2 linked regions of the Homo sapiens genome follow. The main gene of each other region encodes a partner of the protein of the gene in region 2 in a complex. Each region holds a gene or a part of one and is shown on either strand. Other genes may lie near its edges. A codon is read from its position in the direction of its gene.

What was found. Proteins that work in one complex are often made in the same cells at the same time.
Region 1: the proteins of SEC13 (region 2) and WDR59 are in contact, whole or in part, in a cryo-EM structure (PDB 7UHY), measured with the Homo sapiens proteins. Residues at the interface, in NP_899195.1 of Homo sapiens: Val4 (codon at 7,473), Ile5 (codon at 7,470), Asn6 (codon at 7,467), Thr7 (codon at 7,464), Val8 (codon at 7,461), Asp9 (codon at 7,458), Thr10 (codon at 7,455), His12 (codon at 7,449), Asp14 (codon at 7,443), Met15 (codon at 7,440), Ile16 (codon at 7,437), His17 (codon at 4,821), Asp18 (codon at 4,818), Ala19 (codon at 4,815), Gln20 (codon at 4,812), Met21 (codon at 4,809), Asp22 (codon at 4,806), Tyr23 (codon at 4,803), Tyr24 (codon at 4,800), Gly25 (codon at 4,797), Leu28 (codon at 4,788), Val42 (codon at 4,746), Pro59 (codon at 2,105), Trp61 (codon at 2,099), Gln62 (codon at 2,096), His67 (codon at 2,081), Pro68 (codon at 2,078), Tyr79 (codon at 2,045), Ser105 (codon at 1,967), Asn107 (codon at 1,481); in NP_085058.3 of Homo sapiens: Ala525, Tyr526, Gly527, Asp531, Ala532, Asn533, Ile534, Pro535, Phe536, Pro537, Arg538, Thr539, Ser540, Gly541, Ala542, Arg543, Phe544, Cys545, Gly546, Ala547, Tyr549, Val551, Phe553, Thr554, Arg555, Met557, Ala644, Gly645, Lys646, Val647.

Annotation. Positions count from the first base shown.
Region 1 is NC_000016.10:74,883,881-74,891,719, reverse strand, and holds part of WDR59 (GATOR2 complex protein WDR59), read left to right. Parts: intron 1-1,904; coding exon 1,905-2,017; intron 2,018-3,400; coding exon 3,401-3,551; intron 3,552-3,964; coding exon 3,965-4,037; intron 4,038-5,323; coding exon 5,324-5,450; intron 5,451-5,924; coding exon 5,925-6,067; intron 6,068-7,839. UniProt on the Homo sapiens protein: As a component of the GATOR2 complex, functions as an activator of the amino acid-sensing branch of the mTORC1 signaling pathway. The GATOR2 complex indirectly activates mTORC1 through the inhibition of the GATOR1 subcomplex.
Region 2 is NC_000003.12:10,310,616-10,318,454, forward strand, and holds part of SEC13 (protein SEC13 homolog), read right to left. Parts: intron 7,480-7,839; coding exon 7,435-7,479; intron 4,822-7,434; coding exon 4,706-4,821; intron 2,116-4,705; coding exon 1,964-2,115; intron 1,484-1,963; coding exon 1,350-1,483; coding exon of another isoform or gene 1,215-1,349; exon of another isoform or gene 961-1,214; intron 1-960. UniProt on the Homo sapiens protein: Functions as a component of the nuclear pore complex (NPC) and the COPII coat. At the endoplasmic reticulum, SEC13 is involved in the biogenesis of COPII-coated vesicles.

The sequences.
Region 1 (7,839 bases), on a different chromosome or scaffold from region 2:
AACTCCTGGCCTCAAGTGATCCTTCTGCCTTGGCCTCCCAAAGTGTTGGGATTACAGGCGTGAGCCACCACACCCAGTCTTTTTGTTCTTTATGCTCATGTTGAAGATATGTTTACTGTTTTGCAAAGAGTTGCAGAAGTAAATGCAAGAGTCACTGTTTCTGTTGAAGGCATTCAGGAAATGTGTATTATCAGTGAGGAAATAACACGTCTAAATTGTCAGCCAGGGTAGTAAACATCTTATCTCATCCCAGAAAGTCATTAACTTCCTCTAGTGCTGATTCACTAGGTTATTGATTATAGAGATGAATGTGAACTTCAAGTTTCTCCTTTTCGACAATACCTTCTGTATATTTTTCAAGTATGTTGGTGCCACGTGATTTAATTGATTTTGCATGCCTAATGCTTCTCGACCTGTTTCTCAGTATCTTTGTTTGCTTATTCTTTCTCCTTAGATTGTAAACTCCTTGATTCAAAGTCCATATCTTCTTTCTTTTGAGCATCTCAGAGTCTAGTATGTTTTCCAGTTAATGGGCATACAATGCTGTGCTGCTACTGAGAAAGGTTTTCCAGAAAATAGTATTTGATTTTTTTTTTTTTTTTTTTTTGAGACAGAGTCTCGCTCTGTCGCCCAGGCTGGAGTGCAGGGCGTGATCTCGGCTCACTGCAACCTCTGCCTCCCAGGTTCAAGAGATTCTTCTGCCTCAGCCTCCCAAGTAGCTGGGACTACAGGCGTGTGCCACCATGCCCAGCTAATTTTTGTATCTTTAGTAGAGACAGGGTTTCACCATATTGGCCAGGCTGGTCTCGTACTCCTGACCTGGTGATTCGCCCACCTCAGCCTCCCAAAGTGCTGAGATTACAGGCGTGAGCCACAGGGCCCGCCGTATTTGATTTTTAAAGGTATTGAGGGGGTGGGAACTTTGCTTATGACATGATGGGTTTAGCCTGTGCCTTGGACTTAATAGACACTTAGAGGCTATTGGTTTCTGCTCAATGGCTCCAGGCCCCATGGGATTTCAAGTCGGGGAGGTATTCCTCAGATTTGGTGTCAACAAAAAGAAAGCCAAATCCATTTTGTCTTGGCCTATTGTTATTATTGTTACTTTTTAGCTTCAGAGAGGATACTGAAACTTTTATAATGAAGGCAACAAAGTCTTTCATTATTTAGGAAAAGAGGGACAGATCTTAAATGTGTTATAGACTGCCTTTTTTTTCCTCCCTGCCAACCCAACTTACTGATGAAACAGCATTTTAAAAAGTCATGTGAGGCCGGGTGCAGTGGCTCACACCTGTAATCCCAGCACTTTTTGGGGCTGAGGCAGGTGGATCACTTGAGTCCAGGAGTTCCAGACCAGCCTGGCCAACATGGCAAAACCCCATCTCTACTGAAAATACAAAAATTAGCCAGGTGTGGTGGCACATGCCTGTGATCCTAGATACTCGGGAGGCTGAGGCAGGAGGATGGCTTGAACCCAGGAGGCAGAGGTGGCAGTGAGCTGTGATTGTGCCACGGCACTCCAGCCTGGGCGACAGAGCGAGACTCTGTCTCAAAAAAGTAAAATAAAATAAAAAGTCATATGAGTTAGTGGTTAAGTAGATGACCCACTGAAATTATTACACTGTGTCATTTCTCTGATGTTTGCTTAATGAAAAATTTTTAAGCCTAGTGTTTCTCAAACTTTAGAGTGCACATAACTCCCCTAAAGAGTTGGTTAAAGTGTAAACGCTGATTCAGTAGGTCTAAGTGGGGCCTAAACTTATGCATTTCAATAAGGATCCAGCTTTTGCTGCCCCCAATGTAGCAAGGCATCAGGTTTTATATGGAAGACAGGTGGGATTGCTTCATGGTTTCGGTTCTTGTCCTTGCCAGTTTGAGTTTGTATTTCTCTTTGATCTGTCCAGGTTTGGTCGCTGGCTACGGTAGCTACAGATCTTTGCCTTGGTCCGAAATCTGACCCAGATTTGGAAACACCCTGGGCTCGACATCCATTTGGGCGGCAGCTGCTGGAGTCCCTGTAGGTTTTGAGAGCTAAAAATGAGAAAAATGAGTGATGTCCATTTTTGGTCTGTAAACACTTGAAATGTCACCACCTAAGAGAAAGGTGCAGAGGCCCGAGGAATGAAAGGAAGGAGTAGGATCTTTCCTTTCAGTGCTGAAATAATTTCTGTGCAGAACAAACTTCTTATAGCAGACAGAACCATACATTACTTGTCATTTATAACAAGGATTTGAGACCCCTGAGACTCATGTATCCTTTAGAGATTCATGCTTTAGTCCATAAATCACATCAGTCTGAATACAGGAGTTTGAGCTCATGAGATGGTAAGTTTCTTCTTGAAAGCTCTAGGGTCTCACCCTTGAGAATGGATTAGAGAATTGCATGTTGGTGTTCATGTTTGCCAAAGACCACGACGCTTTCACCCTGTTAGGCAATTTGAGAAAACATTGCCTTTGCGTTCAGTTTATTGCACTGACATATGGAAAACTAGGGTATACTATACAAAATAATTTAACACCAAGTAAAACCACTTGAATCTCCATAACTTGGAGGCCCAGGGCCTGGGGAGAGAAACGCTCCTGACTTCAAGTTGAAGTTTGCTTAATTTATGCATTAAGGCCACCCCTGGGACACGTGTTCGTGCTTCCGTTTCCTTGTCACTAACACAGGGATGATAAGGTTTACTCTACTTATTTCGTGTAAGACTCAAATAAGATAGTGAGTGTGAAAACACAAATATTAGACATTGAGTGATAGGAGGACATTAATATTATTCATTCTTAAAGGCAAAGCCCCTCTGATTCCTTACTCACATTCTAGCATAATCTTCCTGAAAGGACAAAGGGGATATGAGTACCTAAAGGACAGAAACACTCCTTGTTGTTCTTACCTAATAGCTCATCTTCATAACTGCACCTCCAGAGTCGATTGCCTGCTAGCATGCTGTGGCGGTCCAGTGTCCTCTGAGCTCCTTCATGTAGCTTTAGGTTATATAAATGACATGTGTGGGAATCCCCCAAAAGCAGTGTGATTCTTCCTTGGAGCTGGGAAGACAGAGCATGTATTGGCTCGCTCAGATGTCAGGTTAGTCCACTTAGTTCTTGGAGAAGCCACATTCATGTTTAAGCCCATGCCTGAAAGTTAGCCAGAGGCTTTGAGATGCGTTCTGTAGATCATTTGTAGTACGTGGATGCCTTATATTCCAAAACAAGTTTAGGCAAACTCAAAGTAGGTCAAACTGCCGGATCTGTAGAAAGCCCCATTTCCTGATGGGTTTTTGAGGCAGAATCAAGACTCCTCCCTTCCCACCCCTGTGGCAGTAACACGCCATGACTGTGACCGCTTTCCTCCTCAATCCCTCCTCCTGACTTGTTTTCTTTCCTCTTATCTTTTCCTCAGGTTGGCTCACTATTGCCGGCTCCGGGATGTTCAGACACTGGCGATGCTCTGTAGCGTGTTTGAAGCCCAGTCTCGGCCTCAGGGGCTACCAAACCCCTTTGGGCCTTTTCCTAACCGTTCTTCTAATCTTGTGGTGTCCCATAGTCGATATGTAAGTTTGTCCTTTTCTGGTTTTGTCTGATTTTTTTTTTTTTTTTTTTTTGAGACGGAGTTTTACTTTGTTGCCCAGGCTGGAGTGCAATGGCATGATCTCAGCTCACTGCAACCTCCGCCTCCTGGGTTCAAGCAATTCTCGTGCCTCAGCCTCCTGAATAGCTGGGATTACAGGCATGCACCACCACTCTTGGTATATTTTTGTGGTTTTAGTAGAGATGAGGTTTCACCATGTTGGCCAGGCTGGTCTCGAACCCCTGACCTCAGGTGTTCCACCTTCCTTGGCCTCCCAAACTGCTAGGATTACAGGCATGAGCCACCGTGCTTGGCCTGCTGTTTTCTTAATGTGAACTGTCATGGGGAATGGTATTCTCATGCTAGTCCTGTTGGTTCTTCTCTTCCCTTCTGTAGCCTAGCTTTACCTCTTCTGGTTCCTGCTCCAGTATGTCAGACCCAGGGCTCAACACTGGCGGCTGGAACATAGGTTTGTATGGAAATGACTTAGCCCACGCTGGATTTTTAGTTCTCCCAGAGCTGTGCATATGTAACCTTTAGTTGATGCTTAGTCTCCATATTTTTTCTTATTTCTTATTTCTCTTTACATTTACTGTGATAGGGATACTCTTGCTGGAGGCCTGACTTTGCATGTTGAACAGACCACGTTCTGGGGGTCTTTGTGCCTTGCTGTGTTGCTTTTCATCTCTTAACCTTGAGAAACTGACAATGGGACTTCCCACTGTTCACCCCCAAAACCTAACCCTTATCCTTTCTCCTTCACATGCTCTTTCCATGTTCATCTGCCACCTACCGCTTCCCATGAATGCTTTCAGTGTAGACAAATACAGCTGGGCCTGACTCCAGTTGATCATAAAGCTGTTTGCTGAGTAAGGTGTATTTGTGTTTCCTGGATTTAAAAAAAAAAAGGTTTTTAAAATGATCTTAATTTTCCTGATATCAAAAGTAGCTCATGCCCAGTGAAGAAAAGCAAGCAAAAAGTATTAGAGAAGAAAATTGTAATTATTGATCTCCCACCTAGGAATAGCGTCCATTAACATTCTAGAACATTTGCATCCATTCTTTGTGTGCAGGAGTGTGGTCATTTGATATATGTGACTTTGTGTTCTATTTTTCATTATATCATGAGCAAATATTGTTCAAAAAGTCCTCGTAAATAATGACTATGTAATGTTCTACTGTATCTCTGTGCCATCATTTGCTTTATTTATTTATTTTTTTTAGTTTTTTGAGATGGACTCTTGCTCTGTCGCCAGGCTGGAGTGCAATGGCATGATCTCGGCTCACTGCCCCCTCTGCCTCCCAGGTTCGAGCGATTCTCCTGCCTCAGCCTCCTGAGTAGCTGGGATTGCAGGCACGCACCAGTACGCCCAGCTAATTTTTGTATTTTTTTAAGTAAAGACATAATTTCACTATGTTCGTCAGGCTGGTCTCAAACCTCTGACCTCAGGTGATCTGCCTGCCTGGGCCTCCAAAAGTGCTGGGATTCCAGGCATGAGCCACAACGCCCAGCCCATCATTTGCGTTAGCATCATGTGTGTGTACTTAGTGATCAAGTTCTCTTAGTAATAAATACCTGCGCAAAAAGGCAAGGGTAGGAGAGAGTTCTATTTAGTTATATTTCTCAGAATATTCAGCCTCGCTTAACATTTCTTCTGGGAAATCCATTGGCCACGTGCTGTCTTATGAGACTCTTCAGATATTTTCCATGCCTTCTCTGATTGCCATCTTCCCTTCCCATTTGATTTTCTTCAGCGGGAAGAGAGGCAGAGCACTTGTCCTCCCCTTGGGGAGAATCCTCACCAGAAGAGCTCCGCTTTGGGAGTCTGACCTACAGTGATCCCCGTGAGCGAGAACGCGACCAGCATGATAAAAATAAAAGGTAACCACCCTCCCAGGTGAGAGCTGCAATGCCAGGACTCCAGGCAGGACTCCAGTTTCTCCACAATCACAACTCTTACTTTTTTTTTTTTTGGACACAGAATCTTACCCGGTCACTAGGTTGGAGTGCAGTGGCGGGATCTCGGCTCTCTGCAACCTCTGCTTCCCAGGCTCAAGTGATTCTCCTGCCTCAGCCTCCTGAGTAGCTGGGATTACAGGCACACGCCACCATGACTGGCTAATTTTTTGTATTTTTAGTACAGACAGGGTTTCACCATGTTGGCCAGGCTGGTCTCAAACTCCTGACCTCAAGTGATCCACCCGCCTCAGCCTCCCAAAGTGCTGGGAGTGACAGGTGTTAGCCACCGTGCCTGGCCAGGACTGTTGCTTTAAGAAGGGTATATTAAGTGCCATTTAGGATGAAGCTTGTTTTTTCTTAAAGGAACTGACAGGAAATCTTTTTAACTTTATCCAGGCTCCTGGACCCCGCCAATACCCAGCAATTTGATGACTTTAAGAAATGCTATGGGGAAATCCTCTACCGTTGGGGTCTGAGAGAGAAGCGAGCTGAAGTGTTGAAGTTTGTCTCCTGTCCTCCTGACCCTCACAAAGGGATCGGTGAGTATGAATTTCTCTCTCTTCCTTTCACTGTCTGAAAGATCCTGTAATTTAATATGTCCACAGCCTCAGACTTGGAATGAAGTTTCAGCTTCTCATTTCTAAGCAGAAATTTCTGAGGCATTTTGAGTCTATTCCAAGCATCTGAAAAGCCCTTGCATTTCGTAACAGGATGAATTTTTTTTTTTTTTTTTTTTTTTTTTTGAGATGGAATCTCACTCTTGTTGCCCAGGCTGGAGTGCAGTGGCGTGATCTCAGCTCACTGAACCTCTGCCTTCTGGGTTCTAACTTCTCCTCCCTAAGCCTCCCGAGTAGCTGAGACTACAGGCGCCTGCCACCATGCCTGGCTAATTTTTGTGCTTTTAGTAGATGGGGTTTTACCACGTTGGCCAGGCTGGTCTCGAACTCCTGACCTCAGGTGATCTGCCTGCCTCGGCCTCCCAAAGTGCTGGGATTACAGGTGTGAGCCATGGCGCATGCCCAGGATGCAGTTTCTATTGCAACAGAAGTAGTTGATATACAGTACTCCAGCGCGGATGAGAGGGATGGATATTTCTTCATTTATTCCACTGTGTGTCCGACTCCTCTTAGGCACAGTGCCCACACATTCCTTCCCCCCATGGAGCTTACAGCTGAGTAGGGGGGAAAATTAAGTAATTTCAAATTGTGATAAATATTCGCAAGCAAACAGAAACGATGTGGGGGCAGGGAGAACAGAGAGGGAGAATCTTAGAAGAGGAATTGAGGTGTGTTGAGAAGGCCTCCAAGGAGCTGAGGTCTGAAGGTTTAAAGGAACCGTGGAGCCATCGGTGCAGAGTGGTGAAAAGAGCATCCCACACTGAGGGACAGGCCCCAGGGAAATGACTGTCGTTGTGAACAAGCGAAGGAAGGTGGCGTGGTGTGGTTGGAGTACAGTGGGGAGAAGAGTGATATCAAATTAGAGTGTAGAGAACTTAGGGTTATATCAGGCAGGGGCTTGTAAGTTGCGGTAAAGAATTTGGATTTGGCCGGACGTGGTGACTTACGCCTGTAATCCCAGCACTTTGGGAGGCCAAGTCAGGCAGATCACTTGAGGCCAGGGGTTTGAGACCAGCCTGGCCAACATGGTGAAACCCCGTCTCTACTAAAAATACGAAATTAGCCAGGCGTGCTAGTGCACACCTATAATCCCAGCTACTCAGGAGGCTGAGGCAGGAGAATCGCTTGAACCCAGGAGGCAGAGGTGGCAGTGAGCCAAGATCACGCCACTGCACTCCAGCCTGGGTGACAGAGCGAGACTCTGTCTCAAAAAACAAAAAGAATTTCAATTGTATCCAAGTCCAATGGTAAGCTTCCAAGGGCATAAGAAGTAAGCAGTGTGCTTTGGGTTGTGTTTTAAGAGGGTCACTGTGGCCTTCCTACGAGGAAAGGATGGGAGGAGGGCAGATCAGAAATAGGAAGCCCGTTCAGAGACGTTGTAGCGGTCAGAGGCAGACAGCCCGGTCTGAGGGTGGCATCGCTAGAGTTGGAGAGAGATGATGGATGGGTTAAAATATATTTTAGAGCTAGACTCAGTGTGACTTGTTTATAACTTGGATGTGGGATCAGGAAGAAAGATGAAACTTGGACGATTCCTAGATTTCCAGCATGAGCAACTGGGTCATTGGCAGTACCAGCTTCCCAGATGGAAACGACTGGAAGAACACTGTGGGCTTAGGTTGGGATAGTCAGTGATGTGTGTGAGATATCGGACTGGAGAAGTTGCATAGGCGGTTGGATGTGAGTTGGGCTCT
Region 2 (7,839 bases):
CACTGCTGATGGGAATGTAAAAGGGTACAGTTACTTTGCAAAACAGTTTAGCAATTCCTCAAAAAGTTAAACACAGAATTACCATATGACTCAGCAATTTCACACCTAGGTATAGACCCAAGAGAATTAAAAACATATGTTCATGCAAAAACTTATCTGCAAATGTTCATAGCAGCATTATTCATAAGGCCGAGAACATCCATCATCTGATGAATGGATAAACAAAATGTCTATATTCACAATGGAGTATTATCCAGCCATAAAAAGGAATGGAGTGCTGATACACGCTATGATATGGATGAAACTTGAACTCATTATAGTAAGTAGGAGAAGCCAGTCACAAAAGACCACAGATTGTCTCATTCTATGTACAACTGATCCTCAATTTCATTTCATTATAATGCTGACAAGATTAAAAAAAAAAAAACAACTCCCAGCGGGGGCCCCTGCCTGTGTGGAGTCTGTGTGTTCTCCCTGTGTCTGCGTGGGCTCTCTCCTGGTACTCTGGTTTCCTTTCACACAATAAAGATGTGCATGTTCACTTCAATGGTACGTCTGCATTGTCCCAGTGTGAGTGTGGGGGTGTGTGTGAGTGCTCCTCTGGTGGAATGGTATCCTGTCCAGGGCTGGCTTCTGCCTCATGCCCTAAGCTGCCAGGACAGGCTCCAACCACCTGTGACCCTGAACTGGAATGAGTAGATTAGAAAAAGAATAGATACAAATTATTGTAGAATTAAACTCATAAAATATCCAATAATCATACAGATGCATGACAGCAAACGATGTGGCATTAGTCATATGAGCCCCCCACATTGGTTATTGTTGGTTTTTGAACTGTGTGGTGGTAGGAGGTAGGACATTGATGTTCGCTTTGCAAACATTTATTCCTTGATTGAACCACCAACATCACGACCACTGTCACTCGCTGATTCACCAAAAGTTGGGTAAAGAATGACCTTGTTTATATTAATCTTTCTTAAATGTATGCATAGCTCACATACTTTTTAAAAGTTTTAATAACACCACTCCATTCTACAGGGTCCCAATGACTACTGCAGGGCATGTCACCTGGAGGCAACCATAGCTAAGGTGGCAGTGAGCAGGCTGCTGCTGCACCAGCCCTCCCCTGCTTGGGAGCACACAACAAGGAAGCAGTGCCAAGCCCTGCCTGGTCTGGCTTCAGGGCAGAGAGGCTCAAAGCTGCTCTAGAGCAATCATGTCTGGTCAGCTGACCACTCCCCGGCCCACTGTCCAGCGGGGACCCTCCCGTGCCACCCTCTAGGGAGGCTGCAGCAGACACGGGGCAAGGCAGGCGCTCTCACTGCACGAAAGGCAGGGGATGGACTCACGGTGTGAGCGTTGTTGATCTTCTTTACTTCCCATTGGCCTTCCCCGGTGTAAGTCAGCAGGGAGATGGCCCCATCCGAGCTCCCACAGGCCAGGATCAGGCCGTAGTCATGGGGGGCCCAGCACACCGAGTTCACTGCGGGAAGAGGGAGAGTGCAGTGAGCAAAGCAGGGAGACCGCGGCCCCAGGTCCCGCCTTCCACAGATTTACTGTTTTACTAAATGTCTACAACAAACAACTGTAGGAGTCACCGGGGGAAGCTGTAACTTGGTCAACTGAGGACACAAAAAAACCCCATCACCTACTAATACCACGATTTCATAACCTACAGTCTATCTAACAAAAAAGTGGGTAGGAAAACAATCTGAGAATGAAGGGTAGTCCTTGCAATGAATAATCCTGAAGAGAAACTCACCTGTCTTTTCTTATTTGCTTTGGACTGGCTTTAGGTCTTAGGGCCTTACTCAGCTGAGGACAGAGTAGCAGAAAAGCCAACCAAAGCTCAAGAGACAGACAAGAGGCACCACGAGGGGCAGGGAGCCAGGGCTCCAGCCGGGACAGAGTCCTTTTTTACCCAGTGGTCCCCTTGCCCGCTCTGCTGCCAAGCTCAGCATACCTGAGGAGTCGTGTCCCGCATGCTCGTGGCTCTTCTCCCAGGTGCCGTTTTCCTCTCTCCAGATAATGACTTTCCGGTCATAGGAGCACGATGCCAGGATGTTGCCGTACATGGGGTGAGCCCAGGCCACTTGCCACACAGGACCCTCATGACTACAAAGGGAGAGATAGGCCAGAGGAACCCACAGTGCCTCTGCAGGCACTACTTTGGACAGAACTAAATGGCTCCCTGAGACGATATATCAGGGCAGAATTGCTTAAGAACTTCAAAGGGAGAACTATACAATGCCATTGCAAAAGGGGTGCTCAGTGGACAGTGAGGAGCCTGAGGTCCTAAGAGGTTAAGCAACCTAAGGTCACAGAGCCTTTGAGAGAGAGTTGAGCCTCTGGGTCAGCCTTCCTGTCCTGGCCAGGCAGGAGCCTCACTTGCCCAGACTGCAGCCAGCACTGTCTGTATGTGCTGTCTACAGCATAGTCATTAATTGGTCCAAGGTTTCCAGCCAGAAGTGTTCAGGAAATATTTGTAGACTGAATTGCTATTCATCCTTCCCGACGGTCAGCTTCCTGAGGAGGCATTATTGGTTTCATTTTGATGTTTTCCACTACTCTTTTAATTTGTTCGAAAGGCATGTCTTTCCCTTCTCTTCTGATCTTTATCCATTCACCTGATAACAGGTGCTATCTGAGCACATGCTCTGTGCCAGGCTTTGTACGGTGACCATTTCTCTGGCCCAGGGAAGGTTTTGCACCTTAGCACTCAAGAGGTAGAGTAGCATGGTAGAGTTAGTGGTTAGGAGACCAGACCCATTCTCCCATTCACTAGCTCTTGACTTTAGGCAAGGATATCTTTGTCTCTTTACCTGAAAATGGAGACATCAATAAGAATTCTTTCATAAAGTTTGGAACAATGCTTGGTAGAAGGAAAGAAAAAAGCCACTCAATACCCATTAGCTATTAGTGCTGCTCCTGGTTTACTCCTTCACCGTGGGCTGCACACACTCAAGTCTCCTCCTCCCTCTGGCTGGGACAACAGGACATTCCCAGTCCCTACAAAGCTGCTGCTAATGAAACTGAGTAGACTCAATCTTCCAACAACTAGCACAGTTTTTACTAAGGGGAAAAAAGAATGGGGTGGGAATTTTTTTTATCCCTCCAATATTTCACATCCTTTGAATGTAAGAAAAACAGCAGAAAGGACAGAGTCACAGCAAACATAACTGCCTTGGCCAACACGCTGCACTGCAGCAGCTCTCTGCCTGCCTGGGGGGCTCCTGCATAGAGAAGCTTGATTTGGCTCCTCAGTCACTTGATCATTTGACACTCAGACAGAGGGGAGCTTCTAGGCCCATTTCCCCAAATGGACACTGACTTAGTTTATGCTTTTTAATTCAGTGAACAAACACATGCTGAGCACCCACCTGTCATGGCTCTTAATCTTTTCTGTGCATTCTGGGGAAGGTTATGGACCCTCATCAGACTAATGTACAAAACACACAGAACTAGGCTTATAAAGAAAATTCAATTATAAATTATACAGTAATCAACTTTTTTTTTTTGAGAAGGGTTTCACCCTGTCATCCAGGCTGCAGTGCAGTGGCACCATCGTGGCTCACTGCAGCCTCAAACTCCTAGGCTCAGGCCATCCTCCCACCTCAGCCTCCCAAAGTGTTAAGGATTACAGGCGTGAGCCACCTTGCCCAGCCTGTTATCAAAATATTATAAAGCAATTTATGAGATAGTGATGCATGTACTTCTTTGTTAACACTTCAAGCAACAAACCCTAGCGGCAGGTCTAATAACCACTGTAATTTCAAAGTTGTGATGAGCATAAGTGGTATTTTGAGGTAGCTAAGTAACCGTGATGTGTGATGACAATATCTGTGAATTCTACTGGTGACAAAGTGACAGGCACTACAAATACTACTGAAGTTTCTGGCCTACATCCATAATTGAAGGAAATGCTAAATATCAGAGTCACTGAAAATGCATTTTTTTCCCCCTGTCCCAATTCATCAACCCCTGAACTCTATTCACAGAACCCTTGGAGATCCACGGCACCCAGGCAAACCCACAAATACGTGAAAGGCAGTGAGCTGAGGGAAAGCAGTAGAGATGTGGCCATAAAAATGAGCCAGGACTTCCTCAAGAATCTCAGTAGGGAGCAGGGCAGGTCAAACATTTGTAAATAATCACTGAACACGTGCCACGGGCATATAGGCAGAACAATGGGATTTATAAAATGATAGCATTCTTACATTATTCTTACGGTGATGCTTTTGTGACACTTTAGGTCATACTGGCTAAACTTGAACGAAATGGTACTGTTTACCACTTTTAAAAGTAGCAGTAGCTGCCTGCACTAAAGACTTACTGTGTCCTGGGCCCTGTGTCAGGGCCTTGCATACACTAGCTGGATAGGAGGTAGCATTGGCCCAATTTTGAGGATGAGCAGATGAAGGCTCTGAGAGAGAAACTGAGTCACTTGCCCAAGGTCTTCTGGTGGGTACACATAAAGTGGCAGAGCTGAGATTCACACCTGTATCCACCTGTGCCCTTAACAGCATCATCCCTGGGGACGTCCGCTGAGGACAGCCAGGCTGGCTGGGATCCCAGCGTCCTCTCCGCTAAATGTGCTTTGGGGTTGCTCTGAATCTGGGCTCCCATGCTTTGCTCCCACGCTTGAAGCAGGGCCTGAGAACCCACACCATTCCTGGAGCCCTTCCCTGGGCTCGCCAGCACTTACCCCCTGAGGTCGGCGATAAGGATCTGCCCTCCATTGCGCACATCAAAGATTTTGACGGACCTGTCTGATGAGCAGGTTGCCAGGCGGGTGCCATAGTAGTCCATCTGGGCGTCGTGCTGCAAAGGGAGGACAGCTCGGGAAGCCTGCAGGCTGGGTGGGTGGGTGGGTGGGGTGAGGGCTGTCACTACACAGAGTCTAGTTTGGACCAGAATCTCCCTGAAATCAATCTGATCTCAAAGTATCATCACCCTCAGGCAGGAAGCTAGCATGTGGACATTCTCACTTCACCTATGGGCAGTGTCTCTCTGAAATGGACAAAGCAAGCCATGCCCAGCTGGTGTCACAGACCCTTTACATACCTCAGGGAAGGGCTCTTCCATTCCTGTTCCGCAGGGTGGGTATGGGAGAAAAAAAGTTGGCCTAGCTGCCCTCTTCTTCCTCCATCCTCTCAGGCCCTATTCAGTTCTTAGGCTCTGTGGGCTAAAGGGGAATACCCCTGGGTTCAGCTCAGCCCTAGCACCTGATGCTAATGCATGGGAGCAGGCCAAAGGAGTGGGCCTCTGACTGCCTGGAGTCCCCAGTCAGGTCTTCTGTGATGCAGCTCTGGCCTGCACACAGGGTTCCATTCAGATATTTGGGCTCTTTCCAGCCCTGGCCCTGGATCCTTTGTGGACCTTTGTTTTGGGGCTTCTGCTCGACCTTTTCCCTAGTAGTGTGCCCAGAGCTTCCCAGACTTTCCACCCAAGGAACACAATGCCTTAAGTGTCGCTGCTCTCACCACTTGTGAACCGAATTCCTTGATGCTGACTGAGCATGCAGAACTAGGCCTGGCCCCTACCTGCAGATCCTTGTCCGCAGGGTGATGGTCTCTGAGGCACCATGCCTCCTGCACCACTGAACACCCTGGTCCCTTCTGCTTGCTGGCCCTGCCTATTCCAATGGATGTCCCTTTCCCCAGCTGTCCCACCCTGGGAGTTTCAGGACTATCAGCTGCACTCCCATGGCCACCAGGGGCAATTATGCCCATTCAAAGGCACTCATTCTGTCTGGCTCAGATGGGAATTCTCACCTCCCTACGCAAGGAACACATCCTGATTTTTCTTTGGGAACTCCCTCCACTGTATCAGGCCTTGGTTTCTTGGAGGGCAGGCAGTAGAGGAGTGTTTCTGAAGCACTTCTCATGCTTCTCAGTGGAAGGAGGCAGGACATAGTACCTTTCAGATCTAAATCCTATCTCCTTAGTTTACCTGCTGTGCAAACTTTGAAAACACTTCATCTCCTTGAGCTTCAGTTTCCTTATCTTTATTATTTACCAACATCCTATGGGCCTTAGTTCCCTTATCTTTAAATAAGGCTAAAGATAGCATCTGTCTCAACAGTTGTTATGAAGGTTAAACAAGATATTGAATGAAAACTCACGCCTGTAATCCCAGCACTTTGGGAAGCTGAGGCGGGCGGATCACCTGAGGTCGGGAGTTCGAGACTAGCCTGACCAACATGGAGAAAACTTGCCTCTACTAAAAATACAAAATTAGCTGGGAGTGGTGGCGCACGCCTGTAATCCCAGCTACTCGGGAGTCTGGGGCAGGAGAATTACTTGAACCCGGGAGGCGTAGGTTGCGGTGAGCTGAGATCACGCCACTGCATGCCAGCCTGGGCTACAAGAGCGAAACTCCATCTCAAAAAAAAAAAAAAAAAAAAAGAAAAGTACTTAGCATGGGGCCTGACACTCAGTGAGCATGCAAATGTTTGTCATTACTACTTGGCCTCATCTAGTTCTCAAACCAAACTCATACGAGTAGGTAGCATATCCATTATTTTTCCCGTAAGTAAATTGAGGCTGGCTCAGAAAAGTTAAGATATTGGCTAGGGAGTCTCAGACTGGGTCTTCCTGCCCATGATTCCATGCTATCTCCAAGGAGGTGTGGTCTTACAGCTAGACCACTCATGACTGAATCCAGAGAACATATACAACTCTGGGACCAGACAACCTCTCAGAAACCCAAAAGCAACTGTTGGTGGACAGGTTGTGAGGGCAAGAACCCTGACATGAAACACTGTCAGCCAGCTGTCCTGGGTCTTGCTCAAAGGCTGCTTGGCCCTGAATGAAGCAGAGTCTGTGTTTTTCCTGCGGTAGACTTTAACCTCTGGACCTTCTCCTGCAGCCCTGTCCTCTTATACTGAGCCTTGTGTTTACCTCTCAGGAAATGCCCTGAGTGTGGACTTCTGGTTCAAAGGGCCTTGTCTGGCCTATTGTCTTGGTGGTTTGACTGGGCTCTGCCTGGGGCTTTCACTGTGGCTGCCCTCTGCCTTTGTATTGAGTCATCTTTCTACACTCTCTTCTTTTCACCCCCCTTTCCAGTGGGGCTAAGAAGTGACAGCAGGAGGAAGACAGGTGGGAAGACTATTGTCAAGCCTCCGTACCCACTCAGCCTTCATCCGAGAGCAGGTTATTGTATTGGCTGGAAGACTGACAGCCTAGAACTACAAATTATTCCCAGGTTCCTCCCAGCAGAGAGTGATTAGACTGCCACAGTCCTGACAACTCAGAGGGCACTGCTAGGGAGCCTGCCATACCCCGAGATTACAGGCTGATAGGCAACCACTGCAAAGCCACCCTGGATCCATGAATGATCAACAGAAAGGGGTAATGAAAACCCCAAATTGCTTCCCTCCCACAAAAATGCCCATGTCCACACCCCTCCAGGGAGGGTGATATTAATACTTACAATCATGTCCTCATGGGAGGTATCCACAGTGTTAATTACTGACACCTAGAACCAAAGATATCACTGGTAAATTAACTCATGGCAGTTAGAATACAACCATCTCAAGTTCTTGACTGCATTTGTTTGTTCACTCACTCATTCATTCATTCATTCAGTAAGCATTCATTCTAAGTACCTTCTTTCTGCCAAGCACTGTGCTAGGAACTGGATATACAGACACAAATAAGAGGAACTTTTTGCCCTTGAGAAGCTCGCGAATAATGCTAGTGTCGCAAGATAAATTATTTAATGGTGGTTTGTGTGTCCTGTAGGAGCCTGAGGGGCTGGGGTGGTAGACACGAATTGAGCCCTAGATGATGGGTAGGAATTTGCAGGTGGCACAGGGGAAAATACCAGTCCAAGCAG